Regions from separate parts of the Homo sapiens genome. Here region 2 is linked to region 1. Evidence: fine-mapped expression QTL. A gene starts in region 1. The other region holds a variant in brackets. All regions are shown on one strand. Distances are from middle to middle.

Region 1 (8,853 bases):
GGGGTGCGGGGCAGCCGCCAGAACCACAGCCGGGCACCGCCAGCCAGGTCCCCGCCCGGGCTTGGGCTAGGCTGGGGCAGGTTAAGCGAAGCTCCAATTCCGTGGGATCCGGACCTAGAGCCAAACAGCAGCTGCAGTATCCATGTCCCCTGCCCGGCCGGCCTGAGCTGGGTGCCTTAGCCACCTACACTCCCGGTCCCGGAACCACAGCTGACCATTCCAACGCAAGTGGTCAAATTTGTTTGTTTTCCAAAACGTGAGACCTGTTAAAATCTCCCTTCCCCGCCTTCCAACAAGCACTCTCACTAGACCCAACCATCCTCTTGGGAATCTTCGAGTCCCTCTGGCTGTTGGAAACTGTGTCTCAGCAGTGAGGCCCAGGTTTCTGAGGGAGAAAGCCCGGCCTAGCCCACAGTCTTAAGGCACCACGCCAGAGGAGGCTCCAGGAAGTTAACAAAGAGGACTGCTGGGCCCGGAGCGAGGACTCCGGCCAGTCTGCTTTCCTCACAAGCTCTTGGTGGGGGAGCGGGAGAGAGGGATTGGGAAGAGATGCAGACGAATAACGAAATGAGAGAGGGGAAGAGAGGAAGAAAAAGAAAGTTGAAAACCTGGGCGAGAAGTGAGTACATGCCAAATAAGAATCAATTGCCCATAATCCAATACTTCCAGGCCTAGAGGAAAGTGCTGGGAGGGGCGTCTGCCCGCAGCTGGCTCAGCTGCCTTTCGACCGGAGATTTGGCAAGGGTGACCCGGAAGGGCTACAGCCCATCCAGGGGACTACAATTTTTCTGTGTTCAAAACCATTCCTTCTCCCCTCTCTCTCATCCCTAATGGGTCTCCCAACACAAACACTGAGCGCTGAGGAAACCAGGAAATTAGAGGTTGGAAGAAAGGAATCAAAAATGATTTATTATTTATTTATTTTTTTTGCTTGGCGTGGGAGGTAGTGGCTGGGAGGTGAAGAACTGTAAACAGGAGAAAGATTCATTACTACAAAAATTTAGGATCCCAGAGATAAAACCCAGTACAACAAAGAGTGAAATCTCAGCTCCCAAAGTCCTTCCTGGGATGTCCTCAGGCCTGTCACCCAGTGTTACCCCGTTGGAGGCCAAAGGAGCCAAAAGCAGCAGGGGCTGAAGGCGTCTGCTGCTGGTCCCCTAGAGGGGTCCCTGTTTTAGGACAGAAACAAAACCCCTGAATGACTTCCTTACTTTCGAAAACAGCCTCCCATCGAATTCTGTGAAGGAGCTCAGCCACTGATTAGAAATAAAGGTTTGATGTTCAAATCTACAGAGGTGATCCATTCACTGAAAACCATAACTCACTCAGACTGATTTAAAATGGGTGTCCTCTCTCACTGTTTTAAAACTTTGGCTCAGCTTTGTGAGACCACAGTAGACAGTTCTGAGACTCCTATCAACAGAAGTCTGACTCAGAAAATGAATTATTTGGTCTCTTTCTCTTCCTCTCTCCCTCTCCCTCTTGGTGGAAGTAGTTTGGTATTTCGGTCCTCCACTGCAGTCTCAGGACTGCTCAAGATTTGTTTCCACACAATTTCTGAGGCAGAACAAAACTCCCTCTTCCTGTGGGGCAAGGACTCTGGGCCTGGCCTCCTTACCTCCTTAACCGGTTCAGAATCCTTTGAGCTCAAACCCAAACAATTTGAATCTCATCAGACCAAAGACAAGATCCTCCCAAGCCCCCGCCCCTCAAAGCCATTTAAAGCCAAATCAAAACAAAACAAAAAGGAGGGTTTTAATCAGAAAAAGAATCTTTTTAATTTGTATAATTTATTAGAAGCTTCTTAGGAACTATATTTAAGCCAAATATCTACATAAGTTACAACAGAAAAAGACTGACGCCGCAAATACCAAACTGCCAAATAATATACACAGATTTGTCAATGCCCATAAAAAATGTGAAGGGCTGGGGACTGGGAGTGGTTTTTCTTTTTACAACAAAATGTACAGATTACTAAAAACTAGGCATTTAGTCCAACTTTTGACAGCGTTTTACAGCTACAAGTTCACATTAAACAAACTATTTTCGCGGAGGGCGGTCGCCGCTGAGCCTAGGCGGCCAGAGGGTGCCGGGGAGGGGGCACTTCCTTTGTGTCAGTGACAAGTGGGTTATGTTGAAGACTCTTTCCTCTCCCCAGCTCCCGTCCTCCCTTCAAAAAAAAAAAAAAATCCTGGTATTTACAAGCGAGTCCTCTTTGCTGGCAGAGTGTGCCCAGAGTGAAGTTTGGTCTTTAGAGTCCAGAGCCATGTCAGCACAGAGCCCTCTCCAATCTGTGCCCCGCCCTAGCGTGGAAAACCCATTTGAATCACCAAAAAAAGACACCCCAAAGCTGTTTTATGCCCTTCTCTGCTTAAAGATTCCTTGAGATTGGATGCGCTTGGTTGTTTTTCATTTTCTTTTTTTAAAAAAAAAAACCCACAAATTTTAGGGGGGGAAAAAAAGAAAGACGTCCAGCAGTTTGGCCTTTGTGGTTTTTTTGTTCCTTGGTCTAAACGCGGCCAGGTTGTTAAGAAAAGTCGAAGCGCGTGGAGCAGCGGTGGATGGTGGTCTGTGTGGCGGGCAGGAGGGAAGCGGTGAGGCAGAGCGCTGGGCTAGGGCCGGCCCGGCGTCCTCTCACCAGGTCCGACCGTATAGCAAGGTGGAGCAGGACATGGTGCCGTAGTCCGAGCCCGAGGAGTTCAGGTGGGACAGGCTGGATACCTGGCCCTGCAGCGCCGCGGGGCTGGCGGCGTGGTGCGCCAGGTCCGGAGACTGGCCTGCGCTGCCTGGCTGGTGGCCCGGGTGTGCGCCAAGGCCGGCGCCACCGCTGCCCACGGAGATGGCCGCTGCCGCCGCCTGCGCGGCCTGCGCCTGGTGCTGCGCCTGCTGCTGCGCGTGGCCTTGTAGGCTGGCGGCGCCCGGCGCGGGGGCACCCGCCTGGCACGGTTTGCCGTCTTTCACCAGGACCGGCACCGCCACGCGTCGCGGCGACTGCTGCTGAGCCTGTTGCTGCTGCGGGCACCCGGTGCCCCCGCCGCCCCCGCCGCCGCCGCTGTCCTGCTGCAGTTGCTGCTGCGCCGCCTTGTCCTTGGCCTGGCGCTTCATTTTGTAGCGGTGGTTCTGGAACCAGATCTTGACCTGCGTGGGCGTCAGGTGGATCATGCTGGCCAGGTGCTCGCGCTCCGGCGCCGACAGGTACTTCTGTTGCTTGAAGCGTCGCTCCAGCTCGTACACCTGCGCCTGCGAGAAGAGCACCCGGCGCTTCCTGCGCGGCGCGCTTGGCAGCGGGGCCATGTTCTTGCTCACGTCCCCCAGCGAGCCCAGGCCGCCCATGCCGCTCATGTTCATGCCGCTCGCCGGGCCCATGAAGCGGGAGACTGTAAGCGACAAACGCACAGCGTCGGCCGGGGCCAGGCCGAGCCAGGCCACCCCTGTTTTCCGCGCCATTGGCCCGCCCGGCCCGCCCCAACCGACGGCGCCCTCCTGACCCAGGCAGCCTAGCGCTGGGGCCCAAGAGGCCCATCCGCGGGGAACTGCCAGCGCCTGCCCCAGGCCGTACCGTCGAGGGGGCTGTACTGGAGCGCTCACAGCCCCAACCCTGGCTGCCCTCCCTCAGTCTCAGTTCCCTCTTTCGAACCAAAAGACGCAGTGGGGGAAAGGCCGCTTCTGCTCCTTTCGTGCCCAGCCCGGGTCAGAGCATTAGGATTAGCTGGCCACAGGCGGCGAACTGGGCTCAGGCCGGGAGCTGGGGTCCTACGGTAGACCCCAGTTTGGAGAGGTTAGGAGAGGGGGTGTTGACTTCCAAAAGCTGGAGCCCCCAGACGCTTTGCCTCTTGGCTTCTCTCCTGTCAGGCCCCAGTGAGGGCACCTGCTCGGACCCTTAGAGTCCCCTCTGGAACTGCGAGTCCTCCCACCTGCCCAGACTCCGCTGGAGAGAGGGCCGGGCCGGGCGCTCGAGTGCCTCCCAACAGGGCAGCCTCCCTCCTGGCCCGGTCTAGCCTCTCCGCGCTCTGCTCGCCCCTGCTCCTTGAGCTCGGGGTCGCTTCCCTTGGCTCCCCGAGGTCTTCTGCGCCGAGCAGAGCTGCCAGTCCACCGCGCCTAGGAGACGCCGAGTACCCGCATCTGACCGCAGGACCCCAGCGCTACCAAGTGCCTGTTCTTGGACCCCCAGCCGAGCAGGGGGAAGCATCCCCAGCTCCCGCACCCAAGTCCCTGGCGCCGCTGCCGGGCCGCCCTCCCTGATGCCCAGCGCGCAGCCTGCCGGCGCCGCGCCTTCTGGACGGCTCTCGCCGCACCTCCTGAGCTCAGCCCGCGGCCCCGCAGTGGGGCGGCCTCACTTACTGGCGGGGAAGCGCGGGTCTGGGTTGGCGCCGTACCATCCGGGGCCAGAGGCGCTGTTCCTCATGGTGTCCTGGTACGGCGGCAGCTCGCTCATGTTGCCCAGGTTGCCGTTGCAGTAGCCCCCCACGGCGGAGTGCGAGAGCTGGGGCACCCCCGCCGCCGTCATGTGGTAGGCGGCGGTGACGGCGCCGTGGTGCCCCACGGCGTGCTGCTGCATGGCCGCTGTTGGCGGTGCCGCCTGGCCCTGCCTGTACGCCGCCAGCGGAGCCCCGAGGCCGCCGCCCTCCATGCCCACTTTCTTGTAGCTTTCCTCCAGGGGACTCAAGATGTCAGACACTGAGAACGGAGTCGTGTGCTTTGGACTCATCGACATGATTCGGCGGCGGCTGGAGGAGGAAGGAAGAGGAGGAAAAAAAAGGGAGAGGGGGAAGGCGAAGCCTCGCTGCTTTTTTTTTCTCCCTTTGCCAAATATTCTGGTGTTACCTTAACGCCGATCTTGTTGGATGTACACGTAACGGAGTGGACCGAGTCCTCCTTAATTGGCTTGAGTGGAGGCTCGGGGGCTGCCTCGCGTTTGTTTTAGCCCGGCGCCAGGTTTTAGGCAGCCACCAGAGGCGGGGCGTAAGCGCTAAAGCAACAAGACAATAGAAGCCTACATCTTGCCCGAGATAATTAGCTTACATGCTGATGACAAGGTAAACACCTTTAAGTTTCACTTGTCAGGATTTTTAGGTCTCAAAGAGAGAGAGAGAGAGGCAGAGACGAGACCCAAAGCATTTCCCCCCTCCCTTGGACACCCCCACCCCCATTTTTTGTGGGGTACCAGCGGAGCGCGGGGAGGAGGTGGAGGGGAGGGGAAGGAGGAGGGAACCGAGAGCGGGGAGGGCAGGAGGTGGGGTGGGGGAGTAACAGAGGAGGAGAGATGGTTGAGAGGAAGGAAGGTGAATGCTGCTTTGCAACCAACTTGCGGAGTTACAAAGTGGAACCACTTTCCAATTCGGTCGGGGTTCCCCGGGCACGGACAGGTCTTTAGGAGGAGGGGGCTGAGGGACAGGGTGGGGGTTTCACCTGAGCCTGCCGGGGCTGCTCCTCCCTCCCGCCGCGGCCTCCCAGCCCCGCGCCTTCCCACTGCCTCCGGACCACATCGGGCTTCGCTGCGCTGAGCCCCAGTCGCCAACAAATGAGCGAGCGAGTCTGGGGACGAACCCTGGGGCCGCACTGTTGGTCTACGTGTCTGTCAGTCTGTCTGCCTCTCTTCTGCCGCCGTCAGAGGGACACCTCTGCTCCCCGCCCCCTTTCCCCCTACCGGAGAGAATCCGAGCGGGCGGAGGGGGCGCTGAGTAGGGGATCGACTGCCTCCCGGAGGCTGTCCCGGATCCCCGAGCCACAACCCGCCCCCGCAGCTCAGGGGTTTTTCAGTGGGCCACCCCCGCTAACACGCCTCCCCCAAGGTCTTCCCCCCCCCCCCCCACCCCCGGCCGAGCAAACACAGCACTGGCCCCCAGAGCTGGGAGGATGGGAAGGGGTCTCACGGGAGGGTCCGTCACTGAAGTTGCCCCACCTCGAACAAACCTGGTGTCCCTGACCCTCGCCCATCTCCCAGACACGCGGGGATCTGGGGCTGGAGCTGACTTTCCGAGGACATCACAGCCCCAGCACCCGAGCCCAGAGCCACGCTGTTTTCCCCTCTGATGCTTCAGGGAGCGCGCGAGCAGGGAGCGGCGTGAGTGCCCGTCTGTCTGTTGCCGGGCGGAACTGAGCCTGAACCCCGGCGGCTGGAGCGCTGGCCAGGAGGGGGCGAATGCCGAGGTGCGGGCAGCTCAGCGGGCGGGAGGCTGGGCCGAGGCTCGCCTCCGCCCGCAGCTCAGCCATGCAAAAGTGCTCTTGCTTCCCGGGAATAACCAAATATCTTTGTTTAAAGTGGTGGCGTAAATGGCCAGTCGCTTTGTGGCCACGCTGGATATTAGTAGATGAGGATCATTCTGCTTCAATTGGGCGCCTCTCATCCGACGAGCAAGAAACTGCTTAGGAGGAAGAGGGTTTCCTGTCTGCGCGTTCCCAGGCTTCAAGTGTGGGCCCCGCGCCTTGAGGGTCCTTGGGCGCCTGGCGAGGGGGAGCTGTGGGCTGCGCTCCCCAGCGGAATCGGGGGTGTCCCCCGCGTTGCTCCGGCCAGGCCGGGGCCTGCAGCCGAGTCGACTACCGAGTGGAGCACTGAACGGCGCGGATTTTGAGACCGACTCCGGTTTTTGTCCTTGGATTTTAAACGTTTTTATCATTGTTTTTGTTTTGCTTTCTCCTTAGCTGTTTTAGTCTCCTCTGCGCGCCAGGGGCTGGGAGGGCGGAGCGCTCCCCGGCCGGCCCCGGCAGGTGCCTCCAAGACACCCGCGCTGGTCAAGGAGCTTCTTGAATTTAGTTTTTGTTTTCACATTTTCTTTCCCCTCCTTGTAGAGAAGGAGCTCCTGATCATGACGAACAGGCAGTTTTGAGCTACTTAATTCATCCGGGCTCCCTTTTTTTATTAATAGCAATTACAGTAGAGAAAGTTTTATTTATTTTTAAAGATTTCAGCCCTCTCCTTGAAGAGAGCTCTTACTCCCTCAATACAAAGCCAACTTCTATAATAACATTCGCTTTTCTCACCGCCTACCTTCTTTACCAGGGTAAAGAAAGCTCAGGACACCCTCCGCCCTCCCACCTGCGCCCGCGTTTTTGTGCGGTCCCCACGGCAGAGCTGGGGAGGCCACCCTACGTTTGCGCAGGGAGACGCGCTCGCCGCTGGTGTTGCGAAAGACCAGAGCGAAGCCCGGCTCCTTGCCCTTCCTTCCCAGGGGCTTCTCTGGGGGGCGCTCTCAGGCCCCGACGAACTGAGCATTGATCACTGTGGTGGCTAAGCAAGGAGGGGAGGCGACGCCGGGCTTAAGCGAACCACAGAGGAGAACTGGCAACGCTGAATACAGACCTTGTCTGCAGGCGCGACCTGGCCGGGCCTGAGTCCCGAATGGGGTCTAATTGCGAAGGCGGGGTGGGTTTCCCAGTCACCCAGCTTCTTTCTCTCACTCGCCATTATTTCATAGTTGTTTGTAAGTTTAAGGAACACCAAGTGTAGAATGTTGTACATCTCTTCCAGTCTCAACGCCATTTAGAAATGGAGATCAATCTTCACAAGGTTTTTGTGAGATTCAAGTAAGATGAAGCACATCAAAATGCTTTGAAAGCTTTGAATGTTTTTCAGCTCAGTGCCAGCACTGGAGATTGCGGTAGTTATTATCATGACTATCCCCACCCCCTCTTAGGTCCCAAGACCTGAGTAAAAGGAAGAGTTGGGTGAATCTTCCACAGCCCCTAGGTCCTGTCTTCTCGGCCTTCGTCCCTTGGCAGCTTTTCAACCTCTCAGCAGGCCACAGGCGCACGTGGCTGGCAGCTCCCCGGCCTCCGGCTCTGACAGTCCGGGGGCAACCAGGCCTGCAGTTCTCGAGGAAACCCCCAGCCCCCCACGTCTCGTTCTGGACCAGGAACCCCCTCCCCAACAACCGCGCAGCAAGTGGCGACTCTGGGAGCTGAACTGGAGTGGAGCTCGAAGTGGCTGGGGCGGGCAAAGACTCCCGCTTCACTCTGGGACACAACTGGGACGGCGCTTCAACCTCTGCCTGCAGGCGTGCTTCTCGCGCGCACCAGCAAGCTCTCTATCCACCTCGCCTGGGCCTTTGCAGCGCCCTGCCGCCCAGGCTCCAGCGCCTCTACTACCCTAGCCCCTTCTCAACACGCGGCTCTGCCTTCTTCCCCAGTACCACTGCACTGCCGAAAATAAGCCCGGAGACTAACGCACCTTGTAGGGAAGAGAAGGACATCTGTATCTCCAAGCTTATCCAAGCAAAGGCCTCCAGAGTCCCTCCCATGGCCCGAAACACCTCCCTCTGACCGAAGAGCGTCCTTTCTTTCCGCCGCCTCCTGGACTCATCCTAAATAGGGCAGACCCGGGCTAAACCAGTGATTTTTTTTTCCATGAATACGAAGAACCCCGATTGCACTTTGCGAAGTCTGCGCGTATTCCTTTATCCCGCAACTAGCTTGCTCCCGGGTGGAGTGGGCACAGTGGGGAGCGGTCAGGGCAGGGCAGGGCCCAACGCTGGCCCCTCGCGGAGCTTTCCCTGGCGCGACCTCACACGGTCGCTGCCTCTATTCCGACCACGCTCTGCTTCGCTGGCTGCGGCTCCGCCAGGAATCCGAGGGGGCGCAGGCCCAGGCTCGGCCCTAGATGCGCGGAATCGCCATCAGCCTTTGCTTACACCAGCGTGGCCGCAGGGAAACTCCTTTCTCTCCCTCCAGTGTCACTTTGCGAGACAAGAACAGAGGGCTCATACAAAAGAAGGCTAATTTGGGGTCTGTAGCTTGGACCAGGTGGAACTGTGAGGAGGAACCACCTGTCTCACCGCCCCACCCCCCAACTGCTTTTTCTAACTCCCTTTGTGGTCCTCCACACCTGTTTAGGGCGCTGAGCCACTCTGTCTCCTG
Region 2 (8,853 bases), 42 kb before region 1:
CATACTCCCCTCACTGCCCTCTCCACCTGCCCTGCCTGCCCTATAGTGCCCTGTAAGGCACCACTAAGACTAGTAGCCTACGAACAGGTTGAAAGCCACCAGTTTGAATGACTGTCTCCTTTTAACAAAAGGAAACTAAGACTTGATGACTGAATCATATTCTTCTTTAGTATTCCAAATCCTTCCTTCAAAAAGTAAATTGCCTTCTTTTTGTTTCTTTTTAGATTATTCTGTACAGCCTTCCCCGAAGTAATTGCATACAAATCAGATTATCAGTGTTCAGTATACTCTTCTTATAATTAAACCACCATCATTTAACTTTACTCATAAAATTTTATTTGAACAAAACAATTTTTGAAAATATAAAAATTTCATAAGAACTGCTTTCCTGTTAGATACAAAATTTATTTTAAAAATAAATAATTATATTGACCTTTACCATCACTTGTCTAAATTTTACTCATGTTTATTGTGAAGACACAGAGGTGAATTAGAAGAGTATATCATTATACATTGTCAAATAAAGCGAAGGTTTCCTTATCCAAATAGAGAGAATATATATGTGATTACTTAATATAAAGCAAAAGCTATTTCTACCAAAGAACAGACATGCAGTTATTGATCTGGAATTGGCATGATTACAAACTACTCTGCAATTCTTCCTCTCCCCAATTAAGGTGTCTCTCTTGAACTGATTGAAAGCTGTTTGATAAGTATACTTTTTTCAAGATGGTGTGCTCAGTTGGGGGTCTTTTTATTAAACTGAAATTCTGTCATTAGCTCTGACTAGCACCAGCTGCTGTATAAATTCTGTGTTGACGTAGACCTCCATTGGTGTTCCAAATATTGCAGATGAATCTCTCTCTGCCTCCAAAATCCTCAGTCATGCAGTATGAATAATTAACATCTGAAAATGCAGAACAAAAATGGCTTTTATTAGAAGACATGGTACTGGGATCACAATTCCACCTTAACTCCTCAGAACAATGAACCAAATAGGACTTTAGCAATTAAACAAAAGTATTTCTAAATCTCTCTATATTATGTTTTTCCCTGTACTTGATCAGAAATGTTAACATTAAGACACAAATTAAATGTTTTAGTCGTACAGCAAAGTTAAAGACAGAATCCAAGCGGCAGCACATTTTAACTAATGTTTTTCTGAATGTTCTAATTCCAGATAAATTCAAAGCATTTAGGACTCATGTCTGCCATGATTATTCTTTCTTCTAAATAGTTCATAATCCATCACTTTTTTTTTTTTTTTTTTTTTTTTAGAACAGATTCTCTCTCCTCTGTCATCCAGGCTGGAGTACAGCAGTGGCACCATCTTGGCTCACTGCAACCTCTGACTGCCAGGTTCAAGCGATTCTCCTGCCTCAGCCTCCTGAATAGCTGGGATTACAGGTCTGCACCACCATGTCCAGCTAATTTTTTGTATTTTTAGTAGAGACAGGGTTCCACCATGTTGGTCAGGCTAGTCTCGAACTCCTGACTTCGTGATCTGGCCCCCTTGGCCTCGCATAGTGCTGGGATTACAGGCGTGAGCCACCACGCCCAGCCAGTCCATCACTTTTAAGAAAAACCTTTCCTATTCATTAATCTAATATTATTTCTACAAGATGTATGGTATAAGTACAGCATAAAACAGTTTCATGAAATGTCTTTATGGAGTTGAACTTATAAAACATCTACCTGGTGTGGGAGATGTGCCAAGTGGGACTTTTCCTTAATGTATTGGATAGATTTTAGCAGACAGATTTTTAAACTTGTCAAAGGACATTGATAAACTTGAATCCATGAAATGATGCAATACATAAAGATAAAATATGCCATAATAGTACAGTGGCTAAGAGCAAAGCATTCTGGACATCAATTTCTGGGCCTCAGTTTCTCCATCTGTAAATGAAGATAATATTAGTATCGGGCTTATGACGTTACTTGAAGCACTAAGAGATCATGCATGTGATCATTAGCACAGCACCGTGTATTTGTTTTCTATTTCTGCGTAACAAATTACTGCATACTTTGTGGCTCTAAACAACAACTACTTATTATCTTACAGTTTCTAGGTAAGGGCATGGCTTAGATGGGCCCTCTGCTTAGAGTCTCACAACACTGTAATCAAGGTGACACCTGGACAGTGTTCTCATCTGGAGATTTGACTGAGGAAGAAACCCCTTTTAAGCTCACTCAGGTTATTGGCAGAATTCATTTCCATGCTGCTCTAAAACCAAGTATCCAGGCTTCTTTCTGACTGCTGGCTAGAGTTTGCCCAAGGTTCCTCACCATGAGAGCTTCCTCAACATGACTGCTTACTTCATCAAGCCAACAAGGAGAGTGTCTGGAGTGAGTCTACTAGCAAGACAGCGTCTTATATTATGTAACACAATAACAGGAAGAACATCCCACCACTTTTGCCGTATTCTGTTGGTTAGAAGCAAGTCCCAGGTCCTGCCTACACACAAGTGAACACACCAGGAAGCAAGGATCCCTGGTGGTCACCCTAGAGTTTGTGTGCCAAATATAGTAAATGAATGAATAAATGAAAGTGTGAGTGAGTGAATAAGTAAATGAGTAAGTGAATGAGTGAAGTTGGGTTTGAATGTTGTAAGCCCCTTGGACAACAGAAAACATGGGAAATAGTTGTAAATACAGGATAAATAGGTAGGTAGTAGACTCTAAGGTAACTGCTCAATTGAAGTCATAATGCAAGCATCTAACCTTTGTGAAAATAATGTGTTGAATAATTATAGGGCCTGGGCTGTAAGGCCCAGAGAATGTCAGAGTAAAATCTCAGGGATGGTGGGAAATAGAGACCTAAAAGAATATATAGGGCTTTTAGTCTCACTTTAAAGTGATAATTTTCTTACAATTGGAGCAAATGGAGAAATTAGAAATGAAATAAAATGGTCAAATATAATTACATAAATTTTTAACTTGTAAGTAATAGAAATAACTAGCAATAAAAACCAAAAAAATCAACACACATGAAAAATAGAATTATCAGCACCAAGTATATGAAAATTTATTCAAACATGCATGTGAACACTAATAATATTCCCAATGGATAAATGGGCAAAGGACATGATTATATGATTCATGCACAGGAAATATGAATAGTAAAATAAATTTGAAAAACAGTTTAAATTTAATATGAATAAGGGAAAAGCCTCGCAAAGAAAAAAAATTTAAGTACCAATTTAATCCATCTTTTTTTTTTTTTTTTTTTTTTTTTTTTTTTTTATTGAGACAGAGTCTTGGTCTGTTACCCAGGCTAGAGTGCAGTGACGCGATCTCGACTCATTGCAAGCTCCACCTCCCGGGTTCATGCCATTCTCCTGCCTCAGCTTCCTGAGTAGCTGGGACTACAGGCACCCGCCACCATGCCTGGCTAATTTTTTTTTTTTTTTTTTTTTTTTTTGGATTTTTAGTAGAGACAGGGTTTCACTGTGTTAGCCAGGATGGTCTCGATCTCCTGATATCGTGATCCGCCCACCTCAGCCTCCCAAAGTGCTGGGATTACAGGCGTGAGCCACCGCACCTGGCCAACCCAATCAATCTTATTTTACCAGCTGATTACTTTAAGATGAGAGAGTAAACAGTAAATTAATTGCATTAGTATTATTAACCAAAACACCTGGTATAACTTATAACTCACCCTGGGTGGGTGGATATTCGATAATAATTAACTGTCAGTAGTGAGTGGTAGGAGAGCTAGTATGGGTAACTGCAGTCGCCAAATCATCAAAACACTTATTTGCAGACCGTAAGACCACATTAACGTGAGGCAGCTAACGTGGGGGGAAAAGGTATTTAGAATTCTTTCAATTTTACTTATACCACTTTGGTAACTGGACTGCAGTAAAACAGATAGAGATCAGACCCCAGAAGAACAGGAAAACTAGGCAAACAGGCTGGATACTCCACAGGAAGAGAATCTGCCCAAGAACAAAGTCAGCGTCCCTACTTTAACGAATATTCTCATGACAACACCTTGGCCTCGGATGAACTCCTGCTTTGTGACAGCGTCGTGGGATGCAGCAGGGCTGTATGGACTGTTCCTGGACTTGGCACGCAAACAGCGACACAGGTGGGTATC[C/T]GCTTTTCCCTCTCCCTCAGGCCTGTTCTGGGTAGACAGGGAAAATCAGTTTTGATGCCATTGATGATATGCCCAATATGTTTGTGCACGTGTGTCCTCAGGTCTCTTTAGGAGTAAGCTATGGCATGTCTCTCATCATGGCCAGGGATGGAAGGGCCAACAATTAAATGAATAATAGTAAGCACTCACTAAGTATTTGTTGTGGTTATTAATGTTGCTTTTACCTTCAGTGGGAAGAAGGCAAATAAAGATGAGTTTTTTCCTGGAATCTAGATGGGCTCTCTTGTGGTGTCAGAGAGGGCGGGCGCCCATGGGACAGCTGCAGCAGAGGGCGGGCAGACGAGGCCCACAGGGGAGCCCAGCACCTGAAGATGATGATAGGCAGCAGCAGGTGGTGTCTGGGAGGTCTGACAGCCACAGTCAGGGCCTGTGGTTTTCAAACACAACTCCAGGCTGACTCACTGAGGGAGATCCAGTAAGCTCTTCAAACCAGTGCCACCTACCACCCCCACAGATTAAGGGCAGGATTCGTCGGGGACCTGAGGCAAGGCTAGGGGACAGAAGGTGTTATGGCAAACAGGAGTCAAGAGGGAAATGGGGGAGGAAGTTGGAGAGCCAAGCAAGTGGTGGTCACAGTACCTTTCTGAGAGCAGTCATTGGTTATTATGCTCTGGAGGAGAGGAGGAAATACGTAACAGAGACCTTCAGAGGGAACGAGCAGATCGCACATTTGTTCTTTCCATATGTCCAGGTGAAGACTGGATGTCAAGCTGGTCCCCACTCGTCTCCTCCCCTCCTCCATCTATAAAATAAATGTACTTTGGTCCTAATATTTTAAGCGCAATTACCCTAAACTCATTTGGAGGTCCATCCATGGGGTACTTTTAATAGTTCTTGTCTGCATTTGGTGAGTCTTCACATCAGTATATCTTCCTTGGAATGTAAATTTTTGGAAGGAAGGAATCAGAGCTATGTGGTTCTTTGAACAGTGTGTAACACTGTAAACAATTAGATGACTTATATTTTTAAGATGAAGATGATGCTACTTATAAAATGAATGAGATTTGTGAAGCCATTCTTTTTTGTCGTAATATGAATGGGACTTGAAAAGTTAGTATTCTGCTGGTGAGAAAACAGCAGTGTCACTTCTAGTTCTTAATGTGAAACTAGCTTTTGTATTCCTCTTAAAATGCTTACCATTGTAATCCCACTTCTAGAAACCTTAGGTAGGGAAATAATAAACAATGTGAACAAAGATATATGTGTAAACACATGAGCACCTAGATGCTTAATTATAGGAAAATGGCCAGATGAAGCTTAGTACAGCTGTAAGATAAAATATCTAGCAGTTATCAAAATTATAGTTAATAATTTTAACAGGAAAATAATTATGTTAAAATAGCAAGTGAAAAAAAAACATGCAGTATTTTTTTCAATTATATTTTTCCAAAGTATAGAAATAATTGGAAAGAAACGTATCGAAATGCTAAAAAAAAAAAAGAGGGCATGAGGAGGAGGGCCTGTATGGCAGAAAAATGGCTAAGAGGTGAGCAATGAGGAAATGAAATGTGTCAAGCAGAACTAAGGAAAGGAAAATTCAGTTTTTTGAATACTCTGTGCAAGCAATGAAATAAGCATTTAATAATTCTTGTTAATAATTAAAGATAAACATTGGAGTAAGGCTACAAGGAGAAAAGAGCCTCTTTCCACAATGAACAGAAACCTCCCATCTTGGCTTAGTTGAAAGAATGGAAAGCTAAGATACTTTGAAGTCTGAATGAGTACATGAGATGACTCAGGTGTGGTTAGGAGCCCATCACCTCTGCTGAGCAGCTAAACATGACAGTGAAACTGTGAGTACACATTTGAGAAATGGGATTTGCTGAGGCCATATATGGGAAGAGGGGATAGGCAAGCCATTAAACCAGTCTGCTAGTTTCTAAACCTAGATGCCCATCCAGAATTACATGAGTAACTATCTAAAACCACAGGTATGCAGCCAAAAAGGCACAGGCCAAAGTAATTATATCAGGGCACAGATGAAACAAAATACGGGATGGGCAGTGCATAGAGAATGAAAGGAACTAACAATGGCACAGTCACCACTCACTGCAGCCTCAACCTCCTGGGCTCAAGTGATTCCCATGTCTCAGCCTTCCAAGTAGCTGTGACTACAGGCGTGAACCACCGTGCCAGCTAATTTTAGTATTTTTTGCAGAGACAGGGTTTTGCCATGTTGCCCAGGCTGGTCTTGAACTCCTGAGCACAAGCAATCCTCCCACCTCGGCCTCCCAAAGTGTTGGGATTACAGACGTGGGCCACCGTGCCTGGCAGAGCATAATGCTTTACATGGGCTTACTCACTTATCCCCTCACAACAGCGTTCTATACTAAGTGTGGGTTTCTGCATTTAACCCCCTCATTATTTCCTCCCTTACATTTGCAGTCTTTACCTTTCTACTGACTCATCTTAGTAATGCTTAAATATGTTCTTCATCCCCTACTTCTCTTTCAGCTACTCTGGAAATTACCCTACTCTGTCCTCCCCTTCAAAGCCCAAATTCTCTAAATGATTAAGTACCCATGGTCATTTCCTCATGCCCACAGGCTCCTCAACCCATTACCATTGGGCTCATGTGCCTACCTGCTTTCTAAAGCTGCCTTCACCAATGTTACCAGGAGCCTCCTCATTGATAAAACTCATTGGATACTTTCCATTCCTTACATTATATGACTTTTTGGCCACTTTAACCTCTGAGATCCAGTTTTAGAGTTACATGTCTAGCTACTTAATGGACATCCCACAGCTTCATTAGACCTCAAATTCAATATATTCTAAGTTTACCTCATCTTCTTTCCAAAGCTACTCTTGTTCCATGTTCTCTATTTCAGCAAATGACACCATCACCAAAGCTGGTCTTCCTTCTTTCCTTCACCCCCAAATACACTTGGCCACTAAACCCCTGTACAGTCTACCCCCTACCTGCCTCTCAGAGCTGAGGTGTACTCTTCTCCATCCCTATAGTACTAGGCTCATATCACCACTCCCTTGGTAGCCCCATCACTGGACTTCCTACCCTTCACCCCTCCACTGACCTACCACCATCTCTATTCTGGTCCCTGGAATGCAGTCCAGGGGATCTTTCTAAAACACAAGTCTGATTATGTCAGTCCTCTACTTAAAAATTTTCCGTGGCTTTCCACTGTCCCTAAAATAAAGTCTAAACTTCTTAACATGGTTAACATGATTCTCTCCAAGTTTCATCTTCAACACATCCCCTTCTGCACGCCACACTCCAGCAATACTTCTTGCTGTTCCTCCAATGTAGGTGCTGTCTTCTCTCTCTGGTTGTTTCCAGTGCTTGAAACAGATCTTCTGACTTTTCTTCTGGCTAAGTCCTTCCACATCTTTAGATCTCAACTTATGTCACCTCCCCTGGAAAGACATTCCTCAACCCCCAGTCCGGGTTAAGTATCCTTCTTCTGGGCATCCACTGTATTACAAATGCTCTTAAAGTGGCCTCTATTTAACCAGCTTACTTGATACACATAATTTCCTTTGTAAAGCACACTGACTACAGCCCTGCCCTCCCCAATGCTCAAAGCTGATAAGCTGCTGTCTATACACTCATCTTACTACTGCTCTCACCAGTTGAATTGCATTGTATGCCTACCAAGTGTCAGATGTGTTTGGTCTAAGTTCTTTTATAACAATTTTACTTATTGTTATAGCTATGTTATTTGAGGAAATCTTATGTAAATTAATAAAATATAAGTACAGAAAGTTGTTTTTATAATGTACAAAGACATAAATGTAAGCTTCTAAAAGTTGCTTTAATGGATATAAAGTTGTAAATGGAAAGAAATCATTAAAAATCTAAACAGATTCTACTCTGACATAGATTTGTCAGTATCTAAGTTCTTGCTCCAATTTAAAGAAATTAAAATAGAAGTAAAACATGTGTATGTATTATGGATGTGGTTTAAATCAGAAAGATGACCTGGGACTTCAATTATTGGACATATATTTAAGGAAAAGTCCTTAGCCTTGCATCAAAAAACTGGCAAAATAATATACATTTATATTTTTATTGAAGTGAAATTCATATAACATACAATTAACCATTTGAAAGTATACAAGTCAATGGCATTTAGTGCATTCATGATGCTGTGCCACTATCAACTCTGTCTAGTTTCAAAACTTGTTCATCACCCCAGAAAAACGCCCTGTACTCTTAAGTAACCACTCCTCATTCCGCTGCTCCCCTGTCTCCTGACAACCTCTAATCTGCTTTAAATTGAAATAGAACATTTAAGGCACGTAGATAACATTTTTAATGACTCTCCACTTTACTGACTTTTTGGATGAGTCTATTAACTATTGGTCCAACCCAAGTTGGATGAGTGGGCATCTGCACATCTGATTTCCTTGCAGCTCTATATTAACATTGCTCATTTCACTGCCTCCCCTGCCTCCCAGACTTTGTGCGCTTTGTAGGCAGGGGCATGTTCGAGCTGTTTATCCATGGGTCTTCAGTACCTGGCACAATGCCTGGCACACAGTGGGCTCCATATTTCTAGGGTTAATTCAGATTACCCAGAAATTAAGTAATATGTCCAAGGACATTAATGGTGAGTCACAATTTAAGCTTAAGTCTCTCTCACAGCACACTAAGCTGTGTGGGAGGTGAACTGAGGCAGCAGTCATATTAGAGTTAATACTGAGAAGTGCTTACTATATGCCTGGCACTG

The links. PIP is the estimated chance that this variant, and not a neighbour inherited with it, causes the effect.
Region 2: its variant is fine-mapped to the expression of SFTA3 in thyroid (GTEx, PIP above 0.99).

Annotation. Positions count from the first base shown.
Region 1 is chr14:36,514,644-36,523,496 of GRCh38, forward strand. It overlaps SFTA3 (surfactant associated 3), which reads right to left and starts at 4,913. Exons shown (of 5, transcript NR_161365.1): 1 at 4,825-4,913. It overlaps NKX2-1 (NK2 homeobox 1), which reads right to left and starts at 5,589. Exons shown (of 3, transcript NM_001079668.3): 1 at 5,410-5,589; 2 at 4,342-4,727; 3 at 1,754-3,377. The coding sequence starts at 5,486. The coding sequence ends at 2,635. NKX2-1-AS1 (NKX2-1 antisense RNA 1) reads left to right here and starts at 4,635. Exons shown (of 2, transcript NR_103710.1): 1 at 4,635-5,036; 2 at 7,001-8,373. RefSeq lists enhancers at 1-625, 2,848-3,846, 5,005-6,004, 6,005-7,004, 7,005-8,004.
Region 2 is chr14:36,472,975-36,481,827 of GRCh38, forward strand. It overlaps SFTA3 (surfactant associated 3), which reads right to left. Exons shown (of 5, transcript NR_161365.1): 3 at 4,742-4,904; 4 at 3,997-4,129; 5 at 314-907. Among named protein-coding and RNA genes, the nearest start is that of NKX2-1-AS1, 42 kb to the right of the region's middle. The variant C/T (reference allele first, on the strand shown) is at 4,103.